Regions from separate parts of the Homo sapiens genome. Here region 2 is linked to region 1. Evidence: fine-mapped expression QTL. A gene starts in region 1. The other region holds a variant in brackets. All regions are shown on one strand. Distances are between the middles of the regions. Region 1 holds the start of KIF25 (kinesin family member 25). Region 2 holds the start of LOC105378135 (a long non-coding RNA gene).

The links.
Region 2: its variant is fine-mapped to the expression of KIF25 in nucleus accumbens (GTEx, PIP above 0.99).

Annotation. Positions count from the first base shown.
Region 1 is chr6:167,988,699-168,004,687 of GRCh38, reverse strand. It overlaps KIF25 (kinesin family member 25), which reads right to left and starts at 7,017. Exons shown (of 13, transcript NM_030615.4): 1 at 5,818-7,017; 2 at 5,368-5,596; 3 at 2,029-2,145; 4 at 985-1,074. It overlaps KIF25-AS1 (KIF25 antisense RNA 1), which reads left to right and starts at 7,611. Exons shown (of 4, transcript NR_103750.1): 1 at 7,611-7,782; 2 at 8,087-8,450; 3 at 8,585-9,175; 4 at 10,224-10,501. RefSeq lists an enhancer at 14,004-14,504.
Region 2 is chr6:168,041,819-168,057,807 of GRCh38, reverse strand. FRMD1 (FERM domain containing 1) reads left to right here. Exons shown (of 11, transcript NM_024919.6): 11 at 469-4,713. The coding sequence ends at 711. LOC105378135 (a long non-coding RNA gene) reads left to right here and starts at 11,646. Exons shown (of 3, transcript XR_943283.2): 1 at 11,646-11,718; 2 at 12,030-12,170; 3 at 12,498-12,614. KIF25 (kinesin family member 25) reads right to left here. Exons shown (of 13, transcript NM_030615.4): 11 at 15,657-15,839; 12 at 15,092-15,247; 13 at 12,717-12,981. The coding sequence ends at 12,812. RefSeq lists an enhancer at 8,892-9,391. The variant C/A (reference allele first, on the strand shown) is at 7,467.

The sequences.
Region 1 (15,989 bases):
CTGAACCCTCATCGTGACGATCCCATCAACCCCTGACCAGCATCCTCTGAGGGCCTAGAGTCACCATTTCATTGGGGGTTTCAAATGATGGTTTTCCAGTTTTATCATTTGTTGAGTTTATTACCTAGAATCTTCTGTTCCCTCAAAAACCATGCATCTGCCCTGAGTATGTTTCCTACAGGAAGGACATCACAACCCTTTTCTCTTTCTATCACTTTTTGGAATAATGAGTTGATGTTCTAGCACCCAAAAAATTAATGTGAGGTCTTTTTAAAAACTCATTATTATGAACTCAAGATTGTACATATAATTATATATTTCAATCTGCTTTAGTCCCTCCTTAATCCCCAGGCTTCTATCCCGCGTTGAGGGAGTGCCTGCCGTGGGCTCCATGTGCTGGGACAGCCCCCGTTCTGTTCTGAGGCCTCCCTTGCTGTTCAGCTCCCCAAGTGCCCCAGGCTCCTCCCACCCACTTCCTTTCCTGGCCCAGATGCGAGGTGTCAAATGAGCTTTTCTCCTGCAGTGGGCTTGGTACTCAGACACCCCTGGGGTGTTGGGCTGCTCCTTCTGACTTCTCGGCCTTTTCGTGGATAAAACTAAAAAGCAAGGAGGCTTTCAGGAGAAACAAAATCATGCTTGATTCCAGTTTAGAATCACAAAGTTCACCCATGATATCACTGATTTTATATTTATATCTCTTTTCCTGGTGCTCTAAATTTTAGAACTTGCTCATATTTGCACTGATTGATCATTTGGGCTGGAAAATAAATGGAAGTGAAGTAACTTCCTCACATAGAACTACGGGTCAGGAGCTGGTTTCCCACAAGGAAAGCATGTCAAATGCTTAATTTCATGTTCCAATAGAAATCAAGGAACAAAAACAACTCTTCTTAACTAAGAAAGCCTAAAATAAATTATTTTCTATTTATTCAGTCTCTGAGTTGCTCTCCATTGTAGGGATCTGTGGGGACTACGGACACCCACCAAGCAGGAAGCTGCTCTCTGAATACAATTTGTGAGGAAACTTGTAGACTCAGGTCATCAACAGCATGGGCCGCTTCTCTAGAGATGGAGCTGAGGGAATGAAACAACATTGAAAATACACATCATGAAGAAATTGCTTTCTGAATTCCTAACATTCAGCCTCTAAAACACCCTTGTGTTTCTTCGCCATCATCTCTGTCTCTGTCCTGGTCACTCTAAAACACCCCTCTGCTTCTCTGCCATCATCTCTGTCTCTGTCCTGGTCTCCCAGGACACTGGCTTGGCTCCTCTTCCTCCTCTTCCTGTGTGCATGGATCCACCCTTCCATCCTTTTCTAAAACTCCACTCGTCCTTTTGGACCTTATGCTTTTTATTTTTTTTACTCTTTACTTTTTATGTATTATTTTCTTCTCTTCCCCACCCCCTTTTGTCTTCTCTTGATTTTTTTACTCCAATACCCCTGTTCTTTATTTCTTGTTTTCATCTTCCCTGTCTGCATTGCATGGGAGAGTCATCCATACTCCAGTAAGAACGCTTAAATATCTCCTTCATGCGCAGTTTAGAGCGGTGGTGATACAGAACAAGGGTCCCAAATCCCTGGCCATGGAGGCCTGTTAGAAACCAGGCTGCACAGCAGGAGGTGAGCGGTGCGCAAGTGAGCAAAGCTTCTCTGAATTACAGCCGCTCCCTATCACTGGCATCACTGCCTGAGCTCCACCTCCTGTCAGACCAGCAGCAGCATTAGATTCTCTTGGGAGCACAAACCCTACTGTGAGCTGTGCATGTGAGGGATGCAGGTTGCACACTCCTTATGAGACTCTGATGCCTGATGACCTGTCACTGTCTCCATCACTGCTAGATAGGACCCTCTAGTTACAGGAAAATAAGCTCAAGGCTCCTACTGATTTTACATTGTGGTGAGTTGTATTATTATTTTGTTGTATATTACAGTGTAATAATAATAGAAATAAAGTGCACAATAAATGAAATGCAGTTGAGTCATCCTGAAACCATCCCTGCCCCGGCCCGCCAGTTCGTGGAAACCTGGTCTTCCAGGAAGCTGGTCCCTGATGCCAAAAAGGTTGGGGACCACTGATCTAGAAGACAAGCTCATCAGGTTCTCCCCTTCAGGAAATCAAGCATCTGCAAGCCATCATGAATCTGAAAAAATGCAACATGTTTCAAAACCAAAAGCCGATGAACACAAACAATGTGCCAGTCCACACACACGTTTATGGAGCTTCTTAGGAAGCTCTGAGAAGCCAAACAGCCCAGAGCCGCACCATCCAGGAGAAAGAAGCCTCTGGGACTATGGAAACTTGCCTGTCTTTCTCACCTGCCCAAGGCCACGCCTCAGGTGTCTTCTCACCTGCCCGAGGCCACGCCTCAGGTGTCTTTCTCACCTGCCCGAGGCTACGCCTGAAGGTGTCTTCTCACCTGCCCGAGGCCATGCCTCAGGTGTCTTTCTCACCTGCCCGAGGCTATGCCTGAAGGTGTCTTCTCCCCTGCCCGAGGCCACGCCTCAGGTGTCTTCTCACCTGCCCGAGGCCACGCCTCAGGTGTCTTCTCACCTGCCCGAGGCCACGCCTCAGGTGTCTTTCTCACCTGCCCGAGGCTACGCCTGAAGGTGTCTTCTCACCTGCCCGAGGCCATGCCTCAGGTGTCTTCTCACCTGCCCGAGGCCACGCCTCAGGTGTCTTTCTCACCTGCCTGAGGCTACGCCTGAAGGTGTCTTCTCACCTGCCCGCGGCCACGCCTCAGGTGTCTTCTCACCTGCCCGAGGCCACGCCTCAGGTGTCTTCTCACCTGCCCGAGGCCACGCCTCAGGTGTCTTTCTCACCTGCCCGAGGCTACGCCTGAAGGTGTCTTCTCACCTGCCCGAGGCCATGCCTCAGGTGTCTTCTCACCTGCCCAAGGCCACGCCTCAGGTGTCTTTCTCACCTGCCCGAGGCTACGCCTGAAGGTGTCTTCTCACCTGCCCGCGGCCACGCCTCAGGTGTCTTCTCACCTGCCCGAGGCCACGCCTCAGGTGTCTTCTCACCTGCCCGAGGCCACGCCTGAAGGTGTCTTCTCACCTGCCCGAGGCCACGGCCTCAGGTGTCTTCTCACCTGCCCGAGGCCACGCCTCAGGTGTCTTCTCACCTGCCCGAGGCCACGCCTCAGATGAGGCTACTGCAGCTGAGGAGCCCCATTTCTGATGGGATTTCATTTGCATTCATTTGCATGTATGTGCCTCTTATGGTGGGAGGCTCGCAGGGAGGCTGGTGTGTAACAAAAGCCGTCTGGAAGTGCCATGTAAAAGGCAAGTTCAGGAAAGCTGATCACCGCTGGGGGCCATTAACTACAGGCTGAGCATCCCTCATCCAAAAACCTGAAATCCAAAATGCTCCAAAATCCAAAACGTTTTGAGCACTGAGATGACGCTGAAAGAAAATGCCCACTGGATTATCTTGCTGAACCGGTCCATACAAAACACGAACATTCGAAAATATGAAACAATTCAACATCGGAAACACTTCTTCTGGTCCCACACATTTTGAATGAGGGCCACTTGGCCTGTCCCGCGCCACACTGACGTATCCGACAGGCCCAATTTCCAGTCCTTTGACAAGTGACAAGTGGCCACCAGTCAAAAAAGTGCAGAAAGTACTAGAGCCAGCACAATCATGTCTAAACACTTTGAAAAGAAAAAGTTTCAATGACTATCAAAAGATCCGAATTTCTTGTTTCACACTGTAGAACCGGCCAAGTGCTTTCTAAAGACCTTCTCAAGTCAGGTGCTAAACTGCAGGATGCAAACACTGTGAGGCTCAAGCCAGGCCCTCCAGGGAAAGCTCATTTGGACAGATTAAGTGGAGGAAACCAAGACCAGAAAAACAGCCTGAGCAAAGCAAAGTCAGGAGTGGGACCCAGTGCCCCTAGCAAACTGGTGCATACGGCCAACCCCATATGGCGTTGGGACAGCCGGGAAGCGCAGCACCTTGGAGTGGCGGGAGGGTCAGCAATGGGAGTGGGGAGGGCCAGGTGTGGTCAGGATGGGAGTGGGGAGGGCCAGGTGTGGTCAGGATGGGAGTGGGGAGGGGCAGGTTTATGGAGGGAGGGTGAGAAGGTCAGATGTGGTCGGCAATGGGAGTGGGGAGGGTCAGGTGTGGTCAGGATGGGAGTGGGGAGGGGCAGGTATAGACAGGATGGGAGTGGGGAGGGTCAAGTGTGGTCAGGATGGGAGTGGGGAGGGTCAGGTGTAGACAGGATGGGAGTGGGGAGGGTCAGGTGTAGACAGGATGGGAGTGGGGAAGGGCAGCTTTATGGAGGGAGGGTGAGAAGGTCAGGCGTGGTCGGGATGGGAGTGGGGAGGGCCAGGTGTGGTCAGGATGGGAGTGGGGAGGGGCAGGTGTGGTCAGGATGGGAGTGGGGAGGGGCAGGTTTATGGAGGGAGGGCGAGAAGGTCAGGCGTGGTCGGGATGGGAGTGGGGAGGGGCAGGTGTGGTCAGGATGGGAGTGGGGAGTGTCAGGTGTGGTCAGGATGGGAGTGGGGAGGGTCAGGTGTAGACAGGATGGGAGTGGGGAGGGTCAGGTGTAGACAGGATGGGAGTGGGGAGGGTCAGGTGTGGTCAGGATGGGAGTGGGAGGGTCAGGTGTGGTCAGGATGGGAGTGGGGAGGGTCAGGTGTAGACAGGATGGAAGTGGGGAGGGTCAGGTGTGGTCAGGATGGGAGTGGGGAGGGTCAGGTGTGGTCAGGATGGGAGTGGGGAGGGTCAGGTGTGGTCAGGATGGGAGTGGGGAGGGTCAGGTGTGGTCAGGATGGGAGTGGGGATTTCCAGGGGGTTTGTTTCATGGGGAAGGAAGTAAGTCATATTGAGTATGGTTTTCAAGTAAGCATTTGAGTAAATGAACTTCAGATAATTTTGCTGTATCCATGAATACCATCAAAACTTTCTCTAAGTCAAAAGTATCAGTTGAGTCAATACTCACTGACTGCCTGCATGGCGGAGTGGGTGGTCTTTGGGGTTCATAAAGGCAGGGTGCTCCCTTTTTGATATAGTGACATAAAGGGAAAAGTCCATTCAAAGCCTGTCCCTGTTCGGTCGGACCCCGCAGAGGCAAACCACGAAAAGACGGACGCCCTCTCAGGTGCAGAACCACTACCACGCACGAGAGGCCTGCTCAGGCAGTTTGGCCTTTTGCAGGCCGTATTACAGAGGGCTGCAGAGTGTCCACTGTCAGCAAGACAGCGCCATCCTTAAACAGAGCCCCCACCCACAACTCGAGAATGTCCTGCTTTGGGACCGGGGACAGGACAGTAGACGGCATTTAAAATTGTGCCACTCCTCTGTCTTTTCCCTGAGCACACAGACATACACACACCGTGCAAACACAGGTTACCTGCTCTGCAAAACTGGATCGTCGGATTCACTATCAAAAGGCAACAAAGGACGAATCCGACAGTGAACTCTGATATTTCGTTTCAGCTCCTGCAATGATCAAGAGGTCTGCGTGTCAACCCGGGCGCGAGCCTGCACTGCGGAGCATCCCCCACTGAACGTGCACCGGGCACCAGCTCCTGAGACGCGGCCGTGAGATCTGCAGCACCTGTCTCCACTTCGAAAGACCCCTGCAGGGTAGTGAACAGTTATTTTATTTATTTATTTTTTGAGCCAGAGTCTTGCTCTGTCGCCCAGGCTGGAGTGCAGTGATGCAATCTCAGCTCACTGCGACCTCCGCCTCCCAGGTTCAAGTGATTCTCCTGCCTCAGCCCCCAGAGTAGCTGGGATGACAGGTGCCCACCACCACGCCCAGCTAATTTTTGTATTTTTAGTACAGAAGGGTTTTTACCATGTTGGCCAAGCTGGTCTCGAACTCCTGACCTCAGGTAATGCGCCCGCCTCGGCCTCCCAAAGTTCTGGGATTATAGGCATGAGCCACCGTGCCCGGCCATGAACAGTTATTTTAAACTTCTGGATTCATACTTCACAAATGTGTTCACTTGGCAAAGGGGTATCCCTTGGTAATAAGTACCAAGGAAAATCCCTTTGAATGGCATCCTGGGCTCGACATTTTAGGCATTTTAGAGGGGATTTTGGAAATTCAGTATCTGTCATATTTCCTTGATTTAATGACTGGAAGGAAATTAGAAGCTTTTTATTCTCATAAACTCCACTGGTTTCCAGTGAGCAACACATCTTCTCCGTATGTGCTCAGAACTTGCCAAATCCATTCTGAAATCTTGTCTTGGATCCACAGCAAGTTTATCCACCCTGTCATGCTGAGCAGCTCCTTCTACATTTTGAAAACCAAGTGGGTGTCATAGGCCAATGATTTACAGCCTCCGTCTGGTCTCTATGAACCCACAGAAGCTGGGATCAGCCTCTGCCTGCATATTCTCCATGGGCCGCGCACTGCACGCTCCTCAGCTAGACCAGGAGACCAGGCTTGAGGTGGAACACTCAGAAACTTCCACAACCAATTCTTCCTTGTGGGACTTGACTCCATCTTAGGAAGGTTCATATTATCTTTTTCATGCTCCAGATTAAAAAAAAAAAAAGCTGCAGCGTAGTGAGACTTTCTGAAGTGCCAGGTGCTTCACTGATATCTCCCTTTGTCTTTATAGCAACCCAGAGAGGTGGTGCTATTGTGAAGATTAAATAAGAAAATACACCAAATGGTTTCAAAAGTACTTGGTACACAGGAAGCACTCAATAAATGTTCTCTTATATCAATGTTTGGAGCACTGAACTACATAAGTAGATGCTTAAAATGAGAATTATTCTTTGACACATCTAACAGCTGGAGAACCTCTCGGCATGGCCAGGGAAGAGAAGCTTCGCAGGAACACTGGCTTCGTGGGCCTCGGGCAGGTGGAATTCGGAGAAACTGGCCAAAGTGCAACCATCAAAATCAAACCTCACAGAAGCGAGGGTCACCCACTCAATCATCCACCTTGGCATCCTCGTGTTGCAAAATCAAACCCTGAGACTTTACATTAAATTTCATGGGATCTCAGGTCTCATACCTTCGACCAAGAAAGCACGAGAGCCTCTGGGTCTTGTTAATGGGCAGTGAGAGACGTGGGTGGAAGGTGCTGGTGAGGAAGGGGCAGGGGCAGGGGCAGGGGCAGTCTCCACCGGCATCTCCAGTTACAGCAAAATCCTTGCTTTTCCCGCGCAAGTCCCCATCTCTGCAGATTCCCCCGCCCCCCATCTCTGCAGATTCCCCCGCCCCCCATCTCTGCAGATTCCCCCGACCCCCCATCTCTGCAGATTCCCCCGCCCCCCATCTCTGCAGATTCCCCCGCCCCCCATCTCTGCAGATTCCCCCGCCCCCCATCTCTGCAGATTCCCCCGCCCCCATCTCTGCAGATTCCCCCGCCCCCATCTCTGCAGATTCCCCCGCCCCCACCTCTGCAGATTCCCCCGACCCCCCATCTCTGCAGATTCCCCCGCCCCCCATCTCTGCAGATTCCCCCGACCCCCCATCTCTGCAGATTCCCCCGCCCCCCATCTCTGCAGATTCCCCCGCCCCCATCTCTGCAGATTCCCCCGCCCCCATCTCTGCAGATTCCCCCGCCCCCAACTGCCCGCTACAGCTCTTTCCTTGTGCCTCACAGCAGCCGGTCCCACTTCCTGCATCGCCACCAATGTGGCCCAGGCCACCAGCCCCCGTGACACTGCAGCCATCCCCTTTGCTCCCCGTCGTGGCCTCCCGACCGAGCAGCCAGAGTGACCCCGAAAGCCTAAATCAGCCTGCGGCGCCCTCACCCGTCCTCCAGCTGCCATCGCCTCCTGGGTGAAGAGGACGCAGGTCGCAGCCCCCGCAGCTCTGCCCCTCTGCCCTCCGGCCAGGCCGCCCCGCTGTCCCCCTTGCTGTCCACCTCTCTGTCCACCCCTGCTGTCCCCCCCCGCTGTCCCCCCCGCTGTCACACCCCCGCTGTCCCCCCCCCGCTGTCCCCCCTGTTGTCCCCCCGCTGTCCCTCCCGCTGTCCCTCCGGCGAGGAGGCTTCTGCACGTTCTGCGTGGGCCTCTCCCCGGGGCCGCCCCAGGTCTCCCCTGACGCCCACACCCACCACCAGGCTGTTGTGCGGGACCTTCCTTCTCTGCCTCTCCAGCTGGTGACGCGCACTGACGTCCTGCAAGGCCCGCTCCAGGTGCGCCACCTTTGACTGGCATGCTGAAAGGACAAAGGGACGGAGGCATTTTACCGGAGAGGACATCCATGGGGCCCAGCAGGTCAAATTCCTTTCTCTAAGTATGGGAGACATTTTTAAAAATAATGGAGTCCTCCAGGGCCGGCTGCGTGCTGTGGCCTGTGCTCCTCACTGCTTTGGACCCAGGCTGCGCTGTCTCCACCACGACCAAGGACTCACAGAGCTCGCCTGGGGGACCTGGCCCCACAGTCACCCCGTCCGTCATCAGCCTCAAATGCCATCAGCCCGTGAATGCTGCTCCATCGTCTGCATGGCAGCCAAGGAGGTCTCTGCTCCTAAAGCACCTGGGAGCCCTTGGTGAGGGGGGAGTGGGGCAGGGAAGGAGATGCTGGGGCCCAGCTCTGCTGCTGTGGATTGTTACAGTGGCCTGGGCCTCTACTCCCGCCTCTGTCCTACCAGGATGGTGCCAGGTGATGTGGCGATGAGTGGGCATCGCGTGGGGGCCTTGGACGAGCGTGGACACCCCAATCCCCAGACTGGCCATTGCCGTGGAGGCAGCGTGAGTGTGACATGGAGCTCGGTGTCGTGCTGCAGAGGACGCCTCGCGGCTGTACGCGTCATGATAGCCAGGGACCCCTCCACATGTCACTTAGCCAAAGGATGCAGCCCAGCCTGGGGCTTTCTACCCCAGGCCCGAGGACCTGCAGGGACAAGGACCCCTCAGCGCAGATGCAGCTCTCATGAGGCCTGAAACCAAGCTGGACTTGCAGAACTGCGCACGCTCCCTTTCTGAAAGAAACACCCGTTACCGGGTCCAGACTGAATGTGGGCGTAAGAAAGCGGGAAGGGTCCCCCACAGCAAGAGAGAGACCCTCCCAGTCACTTGGTCATCTGAGCCTTGAGTGTGTCCGGCCCCAGCCACCAGCCTGTCCCCACTATCCCTCTTGTCAGCACGGCTGAAAGGAGCTGCCTGGGCACCTGAGGTGGCTGAGGCTCATCTTTGAGGAGCATGGAACTCGAGGGGAGAAGTCGCGCCCCCAGGGAAGCCAGGTAAGGAGGCCCCGAGCCCCTGAGCCTAACGCCTGGGCACAAATAAGCCGCCTGGGGACCCCTCTGTGTGGCAGGACTGCACCGTGGCTCCCACAGGCAGGGCCTCAGCAGGCCCTGCCTCCTCACACGTCAGCATTCCCTCTGCGGGAGAGCCTTGGCGGCTCCCTGCTTCTCCCTTTGAGTTTCACCTTTTCAAAGCTTAAGTACACTGCTTTTCACAAAATAACATGATTGTCCCTTTCCCTGGAGCACATGGCTTATAAGAACACAGGCGTTGCCGGCTGTGGTGGCTCGTGCCTGTAATCCCAGCACTTTGGGAGGCTGAGGCGGGCAGATCACCCGAGGTCAGGAGTTCGAGACCAGCCTGGCCAACATGGTAAAACCCCATCTCTACTAAAAATACAAAATTAGCCAGGCGTGGTGGCAGGCGCCTATAATCCCAGCTACTCGGGAGGCTGAGGTGGGAGAATAGCTTGAATCCAGGAGGCAGATGTTGCAGTGAGCTGAGATGGCGCCACTGCACTCCAGCCTGGGCGACAGAGTGAGATTCTGTCCCCCGCCGCCCCCCGCCCCCCAAAAAAAGAACACAGGCATGCACACGTCACTCCTACAAACACGGCCTTAGGGGAGTTACTGAGCAGAGTGCACTGAAGAAAACTAGGCTACAGCAGTGATTTCAATAAAACATCATGTAGCCTCGCAGAAGATCAGTACAGGTTCCAAAGTTTCCACACACCTATTTTGGAATATCAGCAGCACAACCCTTGACCAAGTTCCTAACTTGACCATCATCTCTTTGGCCTGTGGACACACTGAACACTGGGCAGAAGCTGTGAGCATGAGACGAACGTGGGGATGGTGCTATTTGGTTCTTTTGTTTTTTTGAGACAGAGTCTTGCTCTGTCGCCCAGGCTGGAGTGCAATGGTGCGATCTCGGCTCACTGCAAACTCTGCCTCCCGGGTTCAAGCAATTCTCCTGCCTTAGCCTCCCAAGTAGCTGAGATCGAAGGCATGCGCCACCACACCCGGCTAATTTTTGTATTTTTAGTACAGACGGGTTTCACCCTGTTGCCCAGGCTGCTCTCAAACTCCTGGCCTCATGTGATCTGCCCGCCTCGGCCTCCCAAGGTGCTGGGATTACAGGCATGAGCCATCGGGCCTGGCCGGCTAGTGCAATTTGGACGATGAGTTTAAAACTGCAGAACCAAAGTAACCTCTTCCACAGGCTTCAAGCACAGTAGCTGAAGATAATAAATCCATTATAACAAAAGAGTAGCCAAAATGCTGTGGCATTCTTAGAAATGAAGAAAGAACTGAACTGATAAGACAAAAAAAAAAAAATCTCACGTCATATTATAGGAAACTCTGACACAGAACGCCCAACGTGGACACAGGTGCCAGTTCAGCAGTGACCGTCAAGACCGGGGAAGTGCCCTGTGGTGACCAGGAGAACAAGGAGCTCCTCCAGCAAGCAGGGCTGCAGTGGGAGCTGGGAGGGAGCAGTGCACCTGCCAGCGTGGCCGAGTCACACAGTGCCTGCCCTCACCTGTGGAATTTGGTGTCAGCTAAAAGGAAGAAGAAATGGAAACTTAAATTCTAGCCGGTCATTTTCTTAAAACTGCAAACATTTCTCTCGAGTGTGGACTGGCCCGGCTTCGGTGAAAGGTGCCCTCCTACCTAGCAGGGTCTCGGCACTCTGCTGTGTTCTTTGCACCGCGGTCACTATTTCAGAAACACGGTCCTGATACTCATCCTGATAATCTCTTAAGAGCGCCCGAGAAGAAGAATGAAACGCCTGTATATCCTGGTTAAGTTTCTATAAAATAAGAACATACACGATTCATAAAATTATATGATTAATGATCACAGTATAATTACATAAGAATTTGTTATATATGTTTCTATAGAATAATAACATACCCACACAATTAATATAAGGGATATGTTGTTAACTGGAAGGGTGTAAAGCAGAAGTTCTTCGGCCCGGGCCTGTCGATGCCCGCCAGGACTGTTTTCATGCTGCCTGTGCCTCGGCTCACTTACAGAAGTTCTGACTCAATACATCTGGGATTTCTACTTTCAAAGCAGTACATGTGATTTTATGCCCTTAAAGTATTTAAGAAACAGAAAGTCAAGTGTTTCACCAATTTCCGTAGGAAGGGCCGCTCACTGCACGGTGGGGCGATGCTGGGCGCGAGCCGTGTTTCCGTCTATTGTTGACTTCCTCACGATGCTGGCTCAGGCTCAGAGCCTCTCATCACCGCCTGTGAAATGGGGACCACCCTCCTAATCTACTATCCAGACCTGCCTTCTGGAAGCTCAATTATCACGAGCACATGGTGGAAAACGTGGGCCGGTGAAAACAACTTAACATGTAAATGTACATAATAAAATTCCAGGCACAATACATATGAACGCTTTTAGAGAACTTTGGGAGCAAAGCAACTGATGTCCTGCGTGGAAAGTCCTCTTCTCCCCATGAAATTATCTCAAGGATCTTCCATGGGAAGATGTGACAGAACCAGGACACTACTGCTTAATATTTAATATCAGATACTCTTAAATCACAGGAGCATAACTAAAGTATTCTTCGTTTCTTTAGTCAAATCTCCTTTTCTATAAAATGGAGACGGCTTTCATATGTTTGGGAAACATTTTAATAACGAATTAATAAACATTTTAATATCAAAACTAAAGTGTTTTTCTTATATGGAGTACAGATAAAGTTATACATACAACTTATTCAATTAATTTTATTCAGTTGGAAGAGAATGAAAATTAATTTTATATAAATCTATTCTAAATACACTAATGCAGCTTACGAGGGGGTGGGATATCTCTAATTCTGACTAACATAGAGAACAGATTAATCCTGTTTACAGATGTTTTATTGTTGTAGTAATTATATGGTCACATTGTTTAAAACAAAAGGTAAAACAATGTTCTCAACCAAAGGTATAAAAATATCCTCCTACAAGCTCACCCTGGAGAATTGCCAAATATACTATAGGGAATAACAATTTTTCTAACTTTCTAGAAATTATTAGTAGTTTAACAGGAGCTGTTCACATCTGATGACATGCTGTACCAGATCTATTTAGTCTAACATGTATAAACATGTTTTCTACCACTTAACATTAAAATTAAATTGAGAACTTTGATTAACTAAAGTAAGATTTTAGTTTAATGATTTAATTTGATTAACTAAAATGAGAATTTTGACTCAGAAAATTGAACTGCTACCACAGCTATTTGAAATAATTCATTTCATGGACAAAATGTATTTTTCCTTCTGATATTTGCTCAGAATCCCAATCCTATGTTTTGTTTTGGTTTTAGGTTTAGTCTTCTGTTTAGTGTGTATTAGAAAGCAGAACTCCCAGAGTGAACAACATCTGCAATTGATTATGAAAATAGTAACAATTTTGGCCAGGCGAGGTGGCTCACGCCTGGAATCCCAGCACTTTGGGAGGCAGAGGCAGGCGGATCACAAATTCAGGAGATGGAGACCATCCTGGCTAACACAGTGAAACCCTGCCTCTACTAAAAATATAAAACTTAGCCAGACATGGTGGCAGGCACCTGTAGTCTCAGCTACTCAGGAGGCTGAGGCAAGAGAATCACTTGAACCGGGGAGGCCGAGGTTGCAGTGAGCCAAGATCCTGCCGTTGCACTCCAGTCTGGGTGACAGAGTGAGACTCCATCTCAAAATAAATAAATAAATAAATAGAAAGAAAGAAAAGAAAAAAAGAAAGAGAAAATAAGCTGGGTGCGGTGGCTCACACCTGTAATCCCAGCACTTTGGGAGGCCGAGGCGGGCGGATCACGAGGTCAGGAGATCGAGACCATCCTGGCTAACACGGTGAAACCCCGTCTCTACCAAAAAATAGAAAAAATTAACTGGGCGTGGTGGCGGGCGCCTGTAGTCCCAGCTACTCCGGAGGCTGAGGTAGGAGAATGGTGTGAACCCAGGAGGTGGAGCTTGCAGTGAGCCAAGACTGCGCCATGCACTCCAGCCTGGGCGACAGAGCGAGACTCTGGTGTTTTTTTTTTTTTTTTCTAAAAAAAGAAAATAGTAACGATGGTATACTCTTTTAAAGAAGACCAGATTGGGCCTGTGATGGAAACTTGTATCTAACACACGAGGGGCTTTCCTGGTTTCAATGAAGGCTTCTTTTACTTCCATAAGATTACATGTCTTTTGACAAGCATAATTTAAACCATTTCACCAGAAACAAACATAAACATTCACTGCATGAATTAAAACTCTGGCTTCTGGTGAAGCTGTTTTTACCTGAATGACATGACCCAGCTGGCTCAAGGCTGAGCGTGTGTTTCTCTGCAGACACTGCTGTTTGTTGTACAGGGTGGAAATCCGCGTGGCCTCACTGCGACTCTTTTCAATCTTTCCCTTGTACTATTGCATAGAAAATAATCAAAGACAATTTAAAGTCTTAAAACCTCGAAGCTGAAGCAGAGGAGAGCTGAACCTCTCCTCTTTCCTCTGAGAAGAGAATGGTTGCTGATTGTCCCAGATGCACCTGCCCACGTAAGAGAAGACACCACCCCTGCATGGGACTCACTGCAGCAGGGAACACGGTGGGGACAACTCCAGGTGATCCAGGGGCGCGCGGGGCACGGAGCCACAGGAGCCGTCGGGGAGGCATCCCCAGGGCTGAGCCTGAGGGTCCCGGCCAGGTGCGGGGAGGCAGAACGTCCTGGAAGAGGGGCTGCGTGTGAGGCCCGGGATGCCCACGTGTGACTCGGCGATGCCCGCGTGTGAGCTCGGGGTCGCGCGCTGCCTGCGGTGCCTCCGGGGAGCTAAGCCCAGGCCCGAGTCCTGGCACAGAGACGGCCAAGCTCAGGGCCTCAGGAGCAGAGGGACGGGGGCGAGCCGGGCGCAGCGGGGCAGGGAGGCTGCAAAGTCACCGAAACTAACTGTGGAGCAAAGACGGCCGCGGAGGGGGTGCGATTAGGTCAGAAAATCGCCGTATTCTCCGTGTGAAGCTCCTCAGAAGCGGAAAGGTGTTAACAGAGAACTGCAGAGGAGCGAGGCTCCCCAGAGCCCCGGGGGGTGAAGAGGCCGCCAAGGGCACCGGCGGATCCGTGGGGCCTGAGCGGGGGCCCGGGAAGCCTCTCCCACCCTCATGGGACTGAAGAAGAGGCTGCAGCCAAATTCAGTCCCCGGCCCCCAAAGGCTCAGATCGTCTCTGGGGAAGAAAGAAATACCACGCACGTGAGTGTTAGAAATCATCAGCCTGCGCGTTAGAAACCGTGTTCCGGAGCCTCCGGGACTCACCGGGCGTGGAACGGCAATTCCGAGAAAATCCACGGTTCCAGAGCCCCGGGGACTCACCGGGCGTGGAACGGCAAATCCCAGAAAATCCACGGTTCCAGAGCCCCGGGGACTCACCCGGCGTGGAACGGCAAATCCCAGAAAATCCACGGTTCCAGAGCCCCGGGGACTCACCCGGCGTGGAACGGCAGTTCTAAGAAAATCCATGGCGCCAGGATGGTCTGCGCTCAACGTGGGGCTGCCCTGGGCTTTGGGGGATTTGGCCGTGGGCAACAGAAAGACGGGGGAGCGGGCCTGCGTGGGTACAGGGAGGCCGGATTGCGCTGGGGGTGCTGAGGGATGGAGTTGGATGGAAATAAAGTCACCACCTGTTGGGCAAAGGACATGGGACTTATCTTAGGTGGGGGCGACGTGGGAAGCAGGAGCATGAGTCACGGGCAGGAAGCTCCACTCTGGGGAGGGCGAGAGGCCGGGAGGGCCAGGAGGACCTGGAGGCCTGTGCAGCCGCCAGATCTGCAAGGTGCATGTGGTGGATGGTGCTCCGCCTGCGTCCCGGCCCAGGAGTCCCAGTGGAAAAGCCGTTTCATTGCAGGGCCCTTGACGCCAAGCACATCACACACCAAGGCCGCGGTCTGCGTGGCAGTGGAACATGCTGGCCTCCGGGAGGCAGCAGGCAGGGCCACCACGTGGAGATCGGCCTTCCAGTGACCGGAACCACCACGAGGAGCTCACAGTGCAGACGCCAGGGCTCCACGGCTTCCTTTCACACTGTGTGCCCAGTGATCTTACATGTTAAAAAAGATCCTTTAAAAAGCTCATCTACATGATGCTGGAAAAGTCGGCGGGCTGGGGCAGCACCCTCACCAACAGTGCGTGGTGGACAGCACCAGGCTCTGGACCGGACCCAAATGGGAAGCCTGGGCCTGCACTTTGGCGTCAGCGGCCACCCCGACAGCCACTGCTTGACTGGCTGCTGGTGCCACAGAGGCTGTGACGTCCTGGAGAGCCACTCATCCTGAGGGACCCTGAGCGGGGGCCGTCCACGTTCTGCTGGAGAAGGCTTTGGTGGAATGTGATGGCGAGGGGTTACCTCTGCAAGCTCAGGCACTCACGGGCAGGGGTCTGAGGTCCCTCCTCCACAGAAGGACCTGTGTCCCTGGCCAAAGATGGAGACTGGAGTGTGATTGTAGAGCAGCGACACCTCAGGTTCCTTGAGACCTTGTTGACCAAGAGTCTTGACCCTTCTAATAAAGCCACGAAATGCTGTGAGGCCCTCAGGCTGGACGGGGTTACTATTTCCAACTGTTTTCATTACTGTAGAATGACACTGTGAACTCCCAGGGAACAATGTGGCTTGGAATTGGGTGACGAGATTTGATGCTCAGTCCCACAGCTTTTTGTCATTGTGAATGTGGGAATGTTTTTCACCTCTCTGGGCCTCGGTGTTGCCGCCTGTGTCTTCAGTGCCTAGGAAGGGCATGATAATGCACTCATACCCGGGCCTCAACGCCCCAGGAA
Region 2 (15,989 bases), 53 kb before region 1:
GAGGCTTCACTTAAGGGCGATGACGCTGCCCGCTGGCCGCCCACCTGGACGGGACCTTGGACAGTCACCTCTGAACCCAGACAGTTTCCTCCCGTATAAAATAGGAGGCCGTTCTTGACCACTGAGGTGCTTCCAGAGCTAGTGTTCAAGGCCCACACTCAGACCTGATCCTAAATTACACCAAACGCTAAGAGTCCAGGTCCACTGAGTTAAAAGGCAGAAAGCAGCCCCAGGAAAGAAGCTGGGCAAGGTGGGGGCCTCCTGAAATGCATCAAAGGAAGATGCCAAGCCTCTCTCGCAGAGGTGTGTGCTGGGGGACCCGTCCAGGGGCAGGCCGGCCATGCACTGCGGCGCAGGGTGGGCATTGGCAGGGAGTGTGGCTCTGTGGCCACAAGCAGTGTGGCTGCCGTGTGCGGTGGTGGGAGTGAGAGGGGGCAGCAGGCCTCATCCCATGGCCTCTCCCCGCAGATCCAGGAAATGACAGCCGGGGTCAGTGAGGAGCAGCACAGCCATGGCCTGGACGACATGCAGCTGCACCAGCTGGCCCTGCACCCAGCGCCCACCTCACTCAGCCATACCTTCCACCGCGCCCTGGACTGCAGGCTGGCAGGCCCCTGCGAGACCAGGGCCACTCTCCCCAGCAAGAGGTCCAGCAACTGTCTCGCCCTGGACCTGTTCGGAGAGGCTCCACCACAGGAGTTTGTGGTGTAGGCACCACCCACCCAGCAGTACCGTCCGCACCGCCAGGCTCAGCCCCTGCCCACCCCACTTCCACATGGCCCTCGTCCCTTCCTGCCCGCCAGATGCTGCCTGCACTTCCGCAGCCAGCACGCTCCACAGGTTCACCTGTAAGAGGTGTGGAGCTGGCTCTGACATCAACCTGGGAGGTAACAAACAGGTCCCGCACCTCATGCCTGTCTGCCATACACCCGGGAGCTCTTTCCCTCAGGGTCTCAGGGAGCCAGTTCAAGGTCTGGCTGTCAAGTGTCCAGAGAGCCATGGTGTTGGCCCCTGAGGCAGCCTGTCACCCATCCTAATCTGGGAGAGAAGGTGACACAGCTGGGCCCAGACCCTGGAGAGACAGCTCTGCAGTTTCCCACACTGTCAGCTCCCCAAGAGACAGTCCTGATGGGCACAGGCTGCCAGAGCTCCCAAGCCGGAGTTCACAGTCATCACTGTGCAGGACCCAGGTTCCTCCCAGACCTGAACCCCTCTCTGCAACTCCTGTTTGCAAGCGCTGGGCCTGCCAGACAGAGGCCCCTCTTGTGGTGCAAGCCCAGCTCTGTCACCTGAGATCCAGCCAGAGACCCTCCTCCACCATCCACAGTCAATGGCTGTGCTTTCCCTTCCAAGCCAGGGCTTCCAAAGACCCCACTGCCCCGGAGCTGAAGCCGACTCTGCTCCCATCTCAGCCATGAGGCCTCAGGACCCACTCTGCTCACAGGTGGCTTCCTTAAGCCATTGCCCTGGCTGGGGTTGGGCTGGTGCAGCCCAGCTGGCGGAGGGGCGAAGCTTTGGTGACAGACGGAGAGTGGGGGACTAGCTGTGCATGGCACCTGCTCTGATCCGGTGGGCTCCACGGGTAGTGCGACCTCGGTTCTGTGGGCTCTGGAAGGCCACCAGGGTAGGGTCTCCCCAGGGCTCCTCCCCCTGCACAACACTCCTGCACACGTGCAAACCTGCTGTCCTCTGCATTTAGAGGAATGGCCCGTGCATCCCTGCTAGTCTCAGGCCCATCCCAGAGCACTGAGAGGCCACAATCGTTCAGCCCTGTGCCCTGAACACCACTGCCCCCTTCACTGTCTGTGTGTGGTGAAGACCACGCCACACCACCCTCCAGCTCACTGGAGACAAGCATGAGCTTGAGCCCCATGGCCTGGTGCAGGGCTGCGTGCATTGAGGCCGCCTCTTTGACGGGTCCATCCAGGGGGACCCTCTCCTTTCTGTGAAAGGGAATCGTGTGTGTGCCCCAGGCACGTGTAATAAAGAACCCGAGCAGATGCCTCCTGCTTGAACCAGGACCAGCCTGCCTGGGGGGCTGGTGAGATGCCGGCTGTAACTCACTCAGGGGCATCGGCCACAGAAGGCTGCGTTCTGTAGATGGCCACAAGCCCCAGTGCTGCCGAGGGCAAGACTGCCCACAATTCCTGTGCGGCAGGGGAGGTGCGCCTAGTGCTGGCTCAGATGTGAGCATGTGGGCACTTCCCAAAGCCATTCCCATTAGTACAAGATGATTGATTTGCCCCGCTCCGGGGCAATGACTATCTTCTTCCTTTGAAGAAACTTGGAAGCAAGAGCCCAGTCCCATGGACCATGAGGGAAGGTACACACCAGTGTTGGGGAGACACAGCAGGTGGTGTCCACCATGAAGCAGGGTCTGAGCCAAGACCTACATGCACACATGCACACATCCACATGCATGCACACACATACATGCACACACGCACACATCTGCACACAGATGCACACGCATGCACACACACACATGCACACATCCATACATGCACACTCCCCATGTCCAGGCTTCCCCTGCCAGTCACCTTCGCCACACGCCATAGACCCCAGGGGCAGCAAAGGCCGGGCCAGCCCACCCCTAACTTGTGGAAGCATCAGTGAAGCTGGCCCGGCGCCTTGTGTCCTGGCAGAGGCGAGGCAGCCATGGCCCCTGGCTGACCCGAGAAGCTTCTCTGGCCCCACTGGGGATTCCTATTTCTGTCCTTCCTCTGGGCCTTGTGGACAGACATGGAGAATTATGCCAGATGCCTGTTAACTACCGGGTAGGGCTGCTCCAAAGACTCTAATCTCTGGTGTTCAGGGTATGTGGAGAGGACAATTAGAGGCCCGCTGCCCTGAGACTTGCCCAAGAGGGGACGGCCAGGCAGGCCACATGAAGCCCATGTGGGCTACCAGCTCAGACACACCCAGCCGGGGCCGGGGCAGACTCCCCTAAGGCTTGAGCCTCAGCTTTGCTCACCGCCCCTCCCCACAGCCCCCTTCCACGTCACCCACACCTGGAGGGGCAGGAGCGGAGCTGGAAGCAGAAGGCCATCCTGGGAGGGGGCTCCTTCCCAGACAGAAAGCAGCAGAGAGCGGGGCTGCGGGAAGTCGGGGAAGCCAACCTTTCTTTTTGCACAGATTGAGATCAGAGGTCTTTTAGGCAATACGGCTATTTTCCAGAAAAATGGACACCGACTGGTAGGGACAGGGATGTTTCCTAAGAAGGAGGGTGGGGGGCAGGGCTGGGGGTGGCCTGCAAACAGCAGAAGCCGCTGTGTACAGGGGGGCTTGTGGCCTTCAGGTGGCATGAGGCAGGCCGGTGGGGGAGGGGCACAGGGTAAAGTCCCCAATCCCTGTCTTACCCTGTCAGTGGAGAGGAAAAGAAAACCACCTGTCCCAGTCCCTGTGGACCCCCAAGGAGCAGGCCAAGGACCTCCAGCATCACAGCCTCGCATGAGCCCGGCTGGGGTGGTCAGTCCTGTGGCCCGGGCCAGGTCAGCGGTCAAGCTGGCAGGTCCAGACTCGCAAGAACGACCCAGAGAGCTTGTTCAGGCTGGGTTTCTCAGCCCCCCACTGCGTCTGCTTCTGTGGGTCTCGCTGGGCCCCGGAACCTGCATTGCTGCTGCGGGGGTCTGGGTCTGAGGGCGCAGCTCTCCCTGCTGGGTGGGGTGTGGGAGGCGGCAGACCCTGCTCCTGGGGGCAGTTGGTCTGGAGTGGTGACAGGGTGGCCCTGGGCAGGGTGTGGCCGGTTCCCTCTTGCCTGTGTTGAAGCATGGACTCCTCTGGGCCCTCAGCCATCAGCCCAGCCTCCCTCACGGAAGATGGAGAATTCCAGACAAAGCTCATCCTTCCTCCAGGAAAGCCTGCTCCATCTGCAGTAATTGACGGCCTGAGAAGCTCTGCTCTTGGGCTGAACCCCAAGCAGGAGGAGGAGGCCGGGGTCCTCAGGTGCCCATCTGGGAGGCCCGGGGCAGCCAGCAACTGCCTGTGTGTCTGGGATCTCACAGGAGAGGTGGTTCCCAAGCCGAGCATCAGCCCGTCGTGGCCCATGGACTCTGGGTTCCCCAGGCGGGGGAAATGTGCCAGAGCCACGGGGAAAGCTGAGCTCTGCGGCCCTGCGAGTGCATTCACAAAGGTTTATCAGTTTGTAAAACTTGCAGAAAAAGCCGTCCGTGTTTGGGACAGGCGGCCCCTTCCACTCAGGGTTCATCCGTCACGCTCCTTTCGCCTTGAGGGGCACTGAGGGCCCTGTGGGTGTGTGGGGCCCGCGTAGGGGAGGCTGAACTGGACACACACTTGGCTCGGTCTGCTGGGAGACGTTTCGGGGTTCCCAGTCATGTCGTCTCTACCTGTAGGAGCAGCAGGGAGTCTCAGGACAGGATGGCCAGGGCCAGAGGTCACCTGGTGAGGCGGACATGTACTCCCAACCTGGGAGGTGTGGGGACTGGAAGAGAAACAGAGCTGGCAGTGGGAGGCTGGACGTGGTAGGCAATGCCGGTCCTGCAGCCGGGCCCATGACCGTTCTCACGGCGGCGAGCTGTGATGGGGAGGCTGCCTTCCAGGTGCCAAGGTTAGAAAACAAATCCGGGGCAGCCCTGCCGGGAGAAAGCTGGTATTCTACAAAGGCGCGTGAAGAGGTGAACACGCAGTGGGGAAAATGGCGCGGGTTAATTGTTTATTAATCACAGGCAGCTCACCAATAAAACCGTCACCAAATATTGTGTTACTGTGTTTTTCAGCTTTTTAAACTTTGTGATGTGGTGGTTTTTTAATGTTTCTGTATTTAGATTTATTTTCATACTTTAGAATTTGTAATCTTATCTTTTGCCCTGAAGGAGGGCTCCCCATCACCATCTAACCATGGAAGTTTCAGGCCTCAAAACGGGGCCCAGGGTGAGGACTCCTCTGATCTCAGAACCTTGGGTCACACAGCGGCTGCCATTCCCTGCTCACATCCCCTGGCTACGGATGAGGCCCCCGGGCCACTGGGCACAGGCTGGGGCTCCCTCCCGGCTCGCCGCCGGCCCATGCCTGGTTCTCCAGCCGCCCCAGGGTGGCAGTGTTCATCCTGAGTCCCCTCCTGGCTCTGCCCTGGCATCTGTGCTCAGGTGACCAGCCAGGCCTCCCGCTGGCAGGGGTGTGGTTCTCTCCATTCAGCCACTGCTGCTGTCACAAACCAGTGCACGCAGCAGGAACTGGACGTCACCGTCACCAAGTGGGGACCTGTTCGCCGCACCCTCTGTTGTCTGTCCTTGGACATCAGGGCCATTGTCCGCCCACAGCCCTGGACATCCACGCTGTTGGGGCGGCGGCAGGGCCTGGCGCAGTGGGAGAAGAGGAAGAAGCATGTCCTCAGAGCCAGATGCAGGAGTGTGCCCTGTGGGGTGCGGGCCAGGCTCCCTCCTGAGCGGACATGGGAACACGTAACAGTGGGAACAGGCCGGCCTCCAATGGGGGCCTCTGCAGGAGGTGGGCTGGGAGGAGGACGCGCCTCAGGAGCCTCCGGGATGCTCTTTATGGCCAGGCACGGTGCTTCACACCTGTAATCTCAACACTTTGGGAGGCCAAGGTGAGCGGATCACTTGAGACCAGGAGTTTGAGACCAGCCTGGGCAACCTGGCAAAACCCCATCTCTACAAAAAATATAGAAATAAAATTAGCCGGGCATGGTGGCGCCTGTGGTCCCAGCTACTCGGGAGGCTGAGGTGGGAGAATCACTTGAGCCCAGGAGGTCAAGGCTGCAGTGAGCTGAGATCATGCCACTGCACTGCAGCCTGGGCGATGCAGCAAGACCCTGTCTCAAAAAAAAAACCAAAATGCTCTTTGTTCTCTGAGGAAGGGGCTGCCCAGCAGAAGGTGGTGGGAGGGCATGAGGCTTTGGCAGCCCTGACAGTGCATGGGTGGAGTGCCCACCTGTGGGCTGGGGTGCAGGTCTGGGAGGCCGGCACTGTCCCCCTCGGTGGCAGGTGTGTGAAGTGAGGCATCCAGTGGGGGTCCGGGGCCGCCTCCCCGCAGCCTGTCCTTGTGTTTTGCTTCTCACATGTGATTCCTGGGAGCAGGTGCCCTGGGCTCCCAGAGAGGCTGCAGGACACACACCAGCCCCGGCGTGTCCACTGCACTGTGTCTTCCCTCTGGTCACTACAACAGATCTTCATAGGCCGTGTGGCCTCACTCTGCCCACTCCTCATGATTCTGGAGGCTGGAAGTCCAGGATCGAGGTGCCGGCCAGTTCCATTCCTGGTCCAGGCCCCCTCCCTGGCCGCTACGTCTTCTCAGGGCGGAAGGGGCTTGCGAGCTCCCAGGGCCCCCCTTACAAAGGCACTAATCCCACCCGTGAGCCTCCATCCTCACAACCTCACCGGCTCCCACAGGCACCCCCTCCTAACACCATGGCCTTGCTGGTGAGGATTCCCACACAGACGTCGGGGGGCGCACTCAGCCCACCCTGCATTACACGCTGGGACACATCCGGCTCATCAGTCTCCATCCCGGTCTTGGGATCTTCAAGGCAGGAGCCTCCGGCCTTGACTGCAGTTTCCTCGGTGCCAAAGCAAGACCCCGGTACAGGAGGCAGCCAATAAATGGGCACAGAACAGGTGAAAGAGGGAGGGAGGGCCAGCGGATTGGTGCTCTGTGCACCTCAGTGGGCAGGGCTGGCTTGCTCTGGCTGTGCTAACTGTATACACCTCCTTGTCCACCCAGGCTGAGCCACAGTCCACATGGCTGTGATGGAGCTGAAGCCCCTGCTGAGGGGCAGCTGGCGTCCGGCCACGCCCACCCCACATTGTTCTGGCCCCCCCCACCCCATCCCGGGGCTTGCCCGAGGAGCATGGCTGAAACTACAGAACGTCCCTAGCACTTCAGGGAAACAGATGTAAAATATCCGTGGGTTTTGGCCAAGCTCCACCAAGAAAGGAGAAGGTCCAGGGAGTTATGAGACCCCCAGGGCGTCGGTCACCCAGGTCCTGCCCACTGGGCTAACAGCTCACTGGCCTCCCACAGCAACACCCCCAGGGTCAACATTCCACCACCTCGGTCTCCACAAATGAGGTGTCTTCCATTTCTGCTAACTAAGCAAAGTCAGCGACTGGATTACAAGTTCCCAGGCCCAGGGCCTTGGCCACGGCAAGGCTGCTGGGCTCACACTGTGCTGAGGAGGCCACGGCTGCCCCAGCCACACATGGGCCCCCGGCTTGCCCTCCGTGCGCTCCTCCTGCCTCCTCCGACCGCTGCTCTTTCCCCGAGTATCAGGGCTGGGCCAGGCTGTTCTCGAAGTGAGGTCTGCAGTTAATTCGGATTGTGAGACGAGCCTGGTCCCAGACAGTCCTGAGGGAGCATCCAGGGCCGCAAGCCTCACTGCACGGCCTCCCACCACTCCCCAGGGCCTGTTCCTGGCTACGGGGGAGGGGCACAGGCAGCCTGCGGAGGAAAGAGCAGGCAAGAGAGATCTGGGGGAGCCAGGCGTCCCC[C/A]CCATATCTGGCCCCCTCCTGCCTCACACTAAACGATGGCCAGGGCGGGACTCTGGGCACGCAGGGACCTCCGGCGAGTACCAACAGGCCCGGGGGCTGGTGTCTGTGACGCTCTAGGACGGCAGCGTGCGCCCCTCACAGGGTAATTATAGTACAGATCACTCGGTCCGGCACAGGCAGACACTTTGTCATTCCCCCTTTGCCACTGTGGACCCTTCAGGCCTCTGCACAGAGGCCGCCCCCGCAGGGAAGCCACCCCGGACCCCGAGATGGGGCCGGGCCCCTGTGGTTCCGCTCTAACAGGCGCCTGTCGCAGCTCTCACACCCTGGGTGGCTGTGGTGTCTTCTGTCCTCCCCATTTGGGCTGTATTCCCCGCACAGTCTCCACGTGCCACCTAAACCTCTGCTGAGTGTTTCCTCCCACAGATCACTGGCAAATCTCTTCAAAACCAGCGGCCTCTGACCCGCTACAAGCTGAAGAGGACAGGGTGTTTCATTCCAGCCTTGCAGTGTCCTCTGGACGAAACCGCATTTGGCACCCAGAGCTGCCCCAGCCCTGGGCCCTGGGCCCCCACCCCACCCCACCCCCACCCTGGCCCCCGGCAATCTTCCCTCCTCGGGGCCTGGGCTCCTTCCCTTCCTCCTCTCCTCTCCTGAGCCTGCCCATGTCACAGGTTCTGTGGCCAAACGGCCTGAGGGAGGCAAGGAGGGGGTGCTGTCCAGGTTCAAGGCGCCCCTCCAAATATGCCTCGTCCAGCTGTGAAGCTCCCAGACATGTCAGCCCTGGGAACATAAACCTCGCACCAGAGTCACGCACTCACCCCATAAGGCGGCTCTCGTGCATGAACAATTGTGCCGTAGGTCAGCGCTGGGGAGGTCTGGTTGTGCTCAGTTTGAGGAAGCCACGAGTGTTTCTGGAGATGCATTTCTCCGTGGCGCTGGGACTGCCCTCCAAAGGTCCACGTCTGTGAGAGAAGGAGCCGGACCACGACTGAGGGGCAGACGCTCCTTCCCGCCCACTCACAGGCGCTGCGAGTCAGTAAGTACGTGGACTTCCACAGCCTCAGCGTCCTTGCTTTTCAAATGGGTTGATCCTAAACACCTTCAGAGGCCCTGAGCCAAGAGGAAGAAGCTAATGAACATGAAGATAGTAACCCCAGAGCAGAGCTGTTAATTGATGGGACGTCTTTGAGTTTTAGTCACTGACTAGTTTTGGGTTTTTTTTCTGTATGTTTCCTGGGTCCGTCCCTCCCTCTCCCTTCTTAGGGGCAGCGTGTCAGCACCACGGTGATGGGCCACTGAAATCACTGGTGGTGGCCAGCGGTGGGGTGAGTGCCTGCAGCCCCACACCCTGGAGACTGGGCTGGTTTGCTCTGAAACCCTGGCACTCTGGGTGTGGCCAAGTGGACCAGGGTGAAGACTGGGCCCAGGCTTCCTTCTAGGAAATGAGGAGTTGGGAGTGAGAGGCAGACGAAAACCTGGGAAGCGAGGACTCAGCTGCACGCCCTGTGATGGGGCAGAGGGTTCCAGTCTGCAGCGTGGGGGCGTCGAGGGTGGCAGGCAGTGGGGTCCGGTGCCTGGGGCCCAAGCGCCCCCCACGCCCACTGCCCCAACTCCCAGTCTCTGTAGACGCCCTTGCTCTAGGCTGTGACTGGCAGGTTCCTGAGTCACTCGCGCCTCTGCCATCCCGCGTAGAGGCTGGCCAGAGCCGGTCCAACACTTCCCCAGAGGGAAGCTCTGCCATTTTCACACGGTGCCCGTCTCGGGGCACCACTGTGGGCCCCACGCAGCTGTGGGGCGAGGCGTCCACGCATCCTCTACAAAGGCAGCTTGGTTATCACAACGCCGGCCTTGCTCAGAGAGGAACTTCATCAAACACACAAAGAAGGCTTGTCGAGTGTCACGCGGCTCAGCCAGGCTGTCCCTTCGGTCACGCTATGGCAGCAGCTCGGGCCCTTCAAGGTCAGAAGGAGGACGGCAGGGCCTGGCGGCAGTTGTTGCTTGGCACTGCTGTTCAGTGCGGGCTCCACAGAGAAGCTTCCATCTCACCAGAGCTGCCACCTCCTGAGTCCATCATTTGTGCGTTGGTGTCTCTGTCCTACTAAAGGAACTTCGCACCTCAGCAAGCCGGTGAGGGGCTTCCTGAGCCAGGGGCATCTGCCTGCCTAAGGGCCAACCCTAAAGAGAAGTTTGATTTTATTTTGGGCACTGAGGGAGCATCTCAGAACCTGTGGGGTCATTCAAGTCATCACAATGATGAGGGGACACAAGTGACATTGAGCAGACAGGCACCAAGGACGCCAGGTCCCCATAAGGCACAGGACACTCCCACCCAGCAAATACTGTCCCGGGGGCCACGTGGCTTTAGCCCCCGTCAGACATTCACAGGTGGAAATCCTGCATTTGGTGATCCAGGCCTGAAACCTCACACTGCTCTCCATAAAATCAGGAAGGATTATTTCTGCAGTTTTAATGTACATTATGTGTCAGGAATGCAACAGTTGTGTAAACCAAGAGAAGCTGAAACTTTGTAACATTACCAAGAGGTTTTCACCATGTACAAAATTATATCACATTGCTATACTGCTGGTGACATGTGAGTCACAAATGGGACACTTGTGACAATTCCATGTCTGTGTGTCTGTCTGCTTTTTGTAGCGGCCACATTCCTGGAGATTTTACATGCATGTACGTGCACACACACACACAGATACAGTCACTTGGCCCTTATTTTTAAATTGTCGAATATACATAAATTGAATATTGTCTTCCTTCTTATACCGAAACTCATTTACTTCGCTGTGTGTTCAGATGTAGTTGTTTTGAAAGTTTTACGAATTGAAATATACTTATGTGTATATACACAGAAAAAAACTTTTTATTTCTCCATTATATTTTTATTTTTATTATTTATTTATTTGAGACTGAGTCTCGCTCTGTCGCCCAGGCTGGAGTGCAGTGATGCGATCTCGGCTCACTGCAACCTCAGTCTCCCAGGTTCAAGTGATTCTCGTGCCTCAGCCACCTGAGTAGCTGGGATTACAGCTGCCACCATGCTCAGCTAATTTTTGTGTTTTTAGAAGAGACGGGGTTTCACCATGTGGGCCAGGCTGGTCTCAAACTCCTGACCTCAAGTGATCCGCCCGCCTCGGCCTCCCACAGTGCTGAAATTACAGGTGTGAGCCACCGCATCTGGCCTATTTCTCCATTATATTATAGTTACATCATTATATTGATTCTTTTTTTTTTTTTAAAAAAGGCATGCTCTGTTAGGATTATATAATCTATGTATAATTTCACTTTAGGATAATCAAGGGATCCTTAAAAATAGGTGGTGTTACAAAATGGAGGCATTTGTCTGTGGGGTTCAGCACAGGGCTAGGTGGGCTGCCCACCTGTGGCCCCCTAAGCTCGCAGCCAGCCTGTGCTGAGGGGCGCTGTCAGTCAGTGGGAAACACACCAATTCTGAAGACTTAGTGTGGACAAAGAATCTTGAATATCTCATTAATATCTCTATATTGATTTCATATTGATTACACATTGAAACGATCATATTTTTTATATATGAGATTAAATCTGATCTATCTGCTGATGAGTTTATCATCCATGGATCTACAGATCTGCCATCTGTTCACTGACTGATCATCTACCATCTCACCATCATCTCACCTATCTACTGTCTATCATCTCTACCCAATTATATTAAAAACCATGAGTTGAAGCAGATGTCTCTGCTTTCAGCCCCACTGGCTGAGTCCTTTCCTGGCAGGGAGAAGCCCAGCATCTCTGTCTTCAGCGCATGATGCCCCGTGCACCTGCCCTCCTGGCCACCCTGACTAAAAGCTGGACCCCAGCAGCCTGGGCCAGGTCCCCACTCGCAGTGAGGCAGAATGCTCCGCCCTGGGAAAAGGAGTACAGGAAAAGGCCGTTAGCACACTGGGCTCTGAACACCCCCTGCCTGTCTCCACCCCTTGCTCTGGGCTCCCAGGAAGGGAGGGGGTTCCTACCCTTCTGCCCGCCATGAGTCAGGACCACCACAGCTCACGCTCCTCACCTGAGCCGCATGTGGGCACAGGTTTACTTGGTTTGTGCTAACTACTAGAAAAGACATTTTACCTCCCTCTTGCATAAACAGGATAGAGTAAAAAAAAAAAAACATTTTCCTGGCATTGAAATCATCTGAAAGCTACCAGCTGTGACTCCTCTCCAAAACCTGCTTCCCAGCCAATTCTCAGAGCCAAAATGGTTGCTGGTAAGAAATGGGGTATTCTTGGTCTGTGCTTGTGACCCCCCATTCCTCCGCACATGCGTTCCTCCTGGGACCCTGCTCTTGGATCTGCTGGGTCCGAGAGGGTACATCTGTCACTGCGGGCCCGGTGGAAATGGGGGCAGCCCCAGGGGGCACCCTTCCAGCAGAGGACGCGGTGGGCAGCTGTCACCATGCATCCCCTTGTGAGGCGGAGAGGAGCCCTGTGGTGGGGTGGGGCTTAAACGTGCCAGTTCAGCCCCACGGCAGGGGAAGTCACAGGCCAGTCTCCAGAGCTGCTCCTTGTCTCCTTTAAGGCTCCCAACCCTCTGGTTTCACCTGGCTTTGCCGAGGAGGAAGCCAGGCTTTAGAGGCCAAGCAAACCGTCCAGGGATGCAGAGCTGGGAGGTGGCAGAGCCACCATGGAAACCAGAGTCCATCTGGTCCTGGAGCCTGTGGTGAGGAATCCTGGGGGCCGCGTTTGTGTCAAATGAGACGACAGGTTCGTGAGGCTGGCCCCAGACGCCCCCTCCCTGCCTGGCACAGCTCCTCATGCGGAGTGTGGTGGACAACCAAAAACAGTGGTGAAGAAAGAGGGAGCCTGGGGGGAAAGGAAAAGCACGAACTCGAGGAGGCGGAGGTGGCAGCTCTGTGTGAGGCCTGGTGGCTCTGGGGCCGTACGTGCCCAGCAGCACCTCCCCAGCTCACGGGTGGGATCTGCACTGGGCCCAGGCTGACCAGCTCCCACTGTGGGGCACTCACGCCCCCTGCCCTCCTGCCCACAGCTACTTCTGCCGGCTCCCGAGTTTCCCGGGGCAGGGCCTTCAGGGCCCAGGGTGGCCTCTGGGGAGAGTCTGATGAGGACAGCGAGTGCCTGCTGTGACACCTGGTGGCCGCCGCACTGCAAGGAGCTCCTCTGTGAAGCCTGCCCTGCCTGATGGTCTGGCAGGAGTTGGAGGTCCCATCCACATTCATGAGGGTGCTTTGGAATAAAGCCAGGTTTATTGAGTCCACGTGAAACCTGTTTATTTCTAAGCACATATGCATTATAAAGCAAGGACAAGAAACACAGTTTTAGGAGAAAAACTTGTTAATGCATTCAATCCGGCCTCCTCTTCCCCTCCGTTTGGGAGCTGGGCGGCTTCTTTCGGGCAGGGCCTCGCTGGACTTGCCGAGCTCGGATCCCGAAACCCAGGCCCTGCAACGTCTGTGCCAGGTGCCTCTGGCTGGGAGAAATGCAGAGAATCACCAGTAACTTCGCATCGCCTCCTTTAAAATAGAAAAACAACATGCAAGCTGGAAAGAAGAGCAGCATCTGAAAGTGCCAACATGCCAGCAACCAGGGCCCGAGATGGGCGGCTGCAGAGAGGGCCGCCCGGCGCCCCAGCGGGAAAGTGGCCACGTCTGGCAGGTTCCTGGGACGGGGGTCCAGGAGGGTCAGCAGCCGGTCACTAGCGCCCCTCACCCGGGTCCGGGAGGGTCAGCAGCCGGTCACTAGCACCCCTCACCCTCCGGGAGGGTCAGCAGCCGGTCACTAGCACCCCTCACCCCGGTCAGGGAGGGTCAGCAGCCAGTCACTAGCGTCCCTCACCTGGGTCCGGGAGGGTCAGCAGCCGGTCACTAGCACCCCTCACCCAGGTCCCGGAGGGTCAGCAGCCGGTCACTAGCACCCCTCACCCGGGTCCGGGAGGGTCAGCAGCCGGTCACTAGCGTCCCTCACCTGGGTCCGGGAGGGTCAGCAGCCGGTCACTAGCACCCCTCACCCTCCGGGAGGGTCAGCAGCCGGTCACTAGCATCCCTCACCTGGGTCCGGGAGGGTCAGCAGCCGGTCACTAGCACCCCTCACCCTCCGGGAGGGTCAGCAGCCGGTCACTAGCACCCCTCACCCTCTGGAAGGGTCAGCAGCCGGTCACTAGCACCCCTCACCTGGGTCCGGGAGGGTCAGCAGCCGGTCACTAGCGCCCCTCACCTGGGGAAGCTGCAGGCCTTCTACTCACACTCCTGTGTCCCGGGAATTGGGAGGTATGAAGTCAGCCCTAGGTTGAGTCTGCACATGACCCTGAGGGACGCTCAGCCCCCTGGGGCTGTTCTTTCTAGATCTCCCTCATGCCCACACCTGCTGCTCACGGCCCATGGCCCTGTGGCTCCCTCAGGCCCCCCTGGGGCAGGGGCCGTGTGCCCAGGACTTCTCCTCCTGAGGAATGCTGTCTCTTCCTGTTTTTCAGGACCCGTAACGAGGGTTAAGAATTACAGATGAAAACCAAAAACAGTGGAGAAGGAAGGGAGAGCTAAGGGGGAGGAAAAGTGCAGACCCCAGAGGCCAAGGCCAGGGCTCCATGAGGGACCTGCTGGCTCTCAGGTACTGTGTGCCCCACGGTGCCGCCCCTGAGATCACGGGTGGGCTGTGCCCCTGACCCAGGTCGCCCTGTCTCTCTGTTGGGGCTGCGAACTTTGGAATCCAAGAGTACCAGGTGGTCTCTCTCTTAAAGGCAGAATCCAAAAATATGCTCCTGTGAACAGCCCTGTTATTCACCGTGTGGAGGAAGCCAATTTGCCATGAGAGGGGGAAATACCCCACAATGAGAGACAGGGAGAGTGTCTGGAACATTCCAGCCTCCCCGAGTCCCGAGCACCAGCGGCCCCTCCACCACCTCCCAGGGTGGCCCTCCCAGGAAGGAGGAGCCCCCCGACTGTGGTGGCCATGTGCCCCTGCCGTCCTGCAGTGGCCGTTTCTCAGGACACGGCCTACAGGGCCCAGGGCCACCTCTGGGGGACTCTGCCTGCACCCTGAGTCAGGAAGAGCCGCAATGCTTCCTCGGGTCCTCCCTTTCAACCAGTCTGGAGTCTGAGTCGGGGGAGGGGGCACTAACTGAGCTCCCCAAAAACCGCAAAGCCCAGATCCAGCCACAGCTGGATGACTCCACACAGGGGCCGCCTGTGCCCCACCTGGCACTGGTGCTTAATCTGTTGCGTCCAGGCTTCTGGCACCTGCCCCCAAAAGACCCAAGGAACTTGGGGCCTAAGCAGGTCTACACAGCCGGAGGGACCCAGGCCACACATGCAGCAGCAGCCTAGAGAGCCCTCAGCTGCTCTGGCGGACCCCTGGTGAAGAGAAAGGCCAGGGCTGCCACCCTTGAGAAACTGAGCCCCAACCAGGAGGCAAGTCACACACAGACCGAACAAGCACACAATCAGGCCAAGGTGAGACGGCGCAGGAGAATGACCACCGTGCCGTGGGAGTGCCAGCTAGCCACAGCGAGGACACAGGAGGTGCAGGGGGTGCATGGGTGGCCCTCGAGGACGTGCAGGCCAGAAGTGTGTGCACATGTCCTGGGGTACGTGGTCCCCCATCCTGGGGCATTTTGGGGAAAACGGTTACCGAGGCAGTCCTGAAGGAGGTGGGTGAGCCTGCTGTTCCGGTACGGGGCATGGCCACGGTGCTCCAACAAAGCCCCCAGGACGCCTGCCAGGGCCGCAAGGCTGCGGCTGATGCACGCCATCTCCCTCAGGGCCAACCCGGTCACTCCAGACACACCTGGACAGGACCGCCACGCACCATCACCGTTTGCACCAAGAAAGGAGGCAGGAAAAGCAAAACCGGCTCCTTGGGAGGAGCGGCTCTCAGGCAGGTAGAGGGGAGGCCATGGACGGGACAGGCATGAGAGTGAGTGTCTTTCATGGCTCTGCTCACAGCTCAAAGCGAGCTCCTGCTGGGAACTCAGGTTTTCTGTTCCCAGAGGGCCCGTGTGAGGAACACGACTCTCGGGTTGCCGGGGTAAGAGAACCAATCCCTGAGAATGTAACGGGATTTGGAACTCACCTGTGGAGGGGGAAATGCCTGGCTCGCCCAGAGCTTCCCGGGCTGCCTGGTTGCACATCCAGCTCCATCAGATCATAGGCTTCTGCAGCACCCACCCCCCAGGGAAATGCCTGCCCCTGCTCACCAACGCACTCGCTGCCGGCCGAGTCCACGAGCTGTAGTCGAGCCTGCACCTGCTCCGCATGCCCTGCGGGGTTCCCAGGAACCAGCTGTGGAGCCAAGGCCCCTTGAGAAGCTCTGCGGCTCCTTCCTGCCCTTCCTGCCTCTGTTTGCTCCCTGGGGAGGGTGGCACTGCAGGCTTGGTCTGCTGCAAGGGACCAAGGAGCGACGAGGAGGAAAACAGTTGCATGAAGCCATGAGGCTGTGCTTTGCCTCAGTCAGAGCCGAGAAGCTTCTGAACTGCACCCTCCTGCCCACACCTCCCACCCAGTAAGAAGTGGGATTTCCGCAGAGGTCC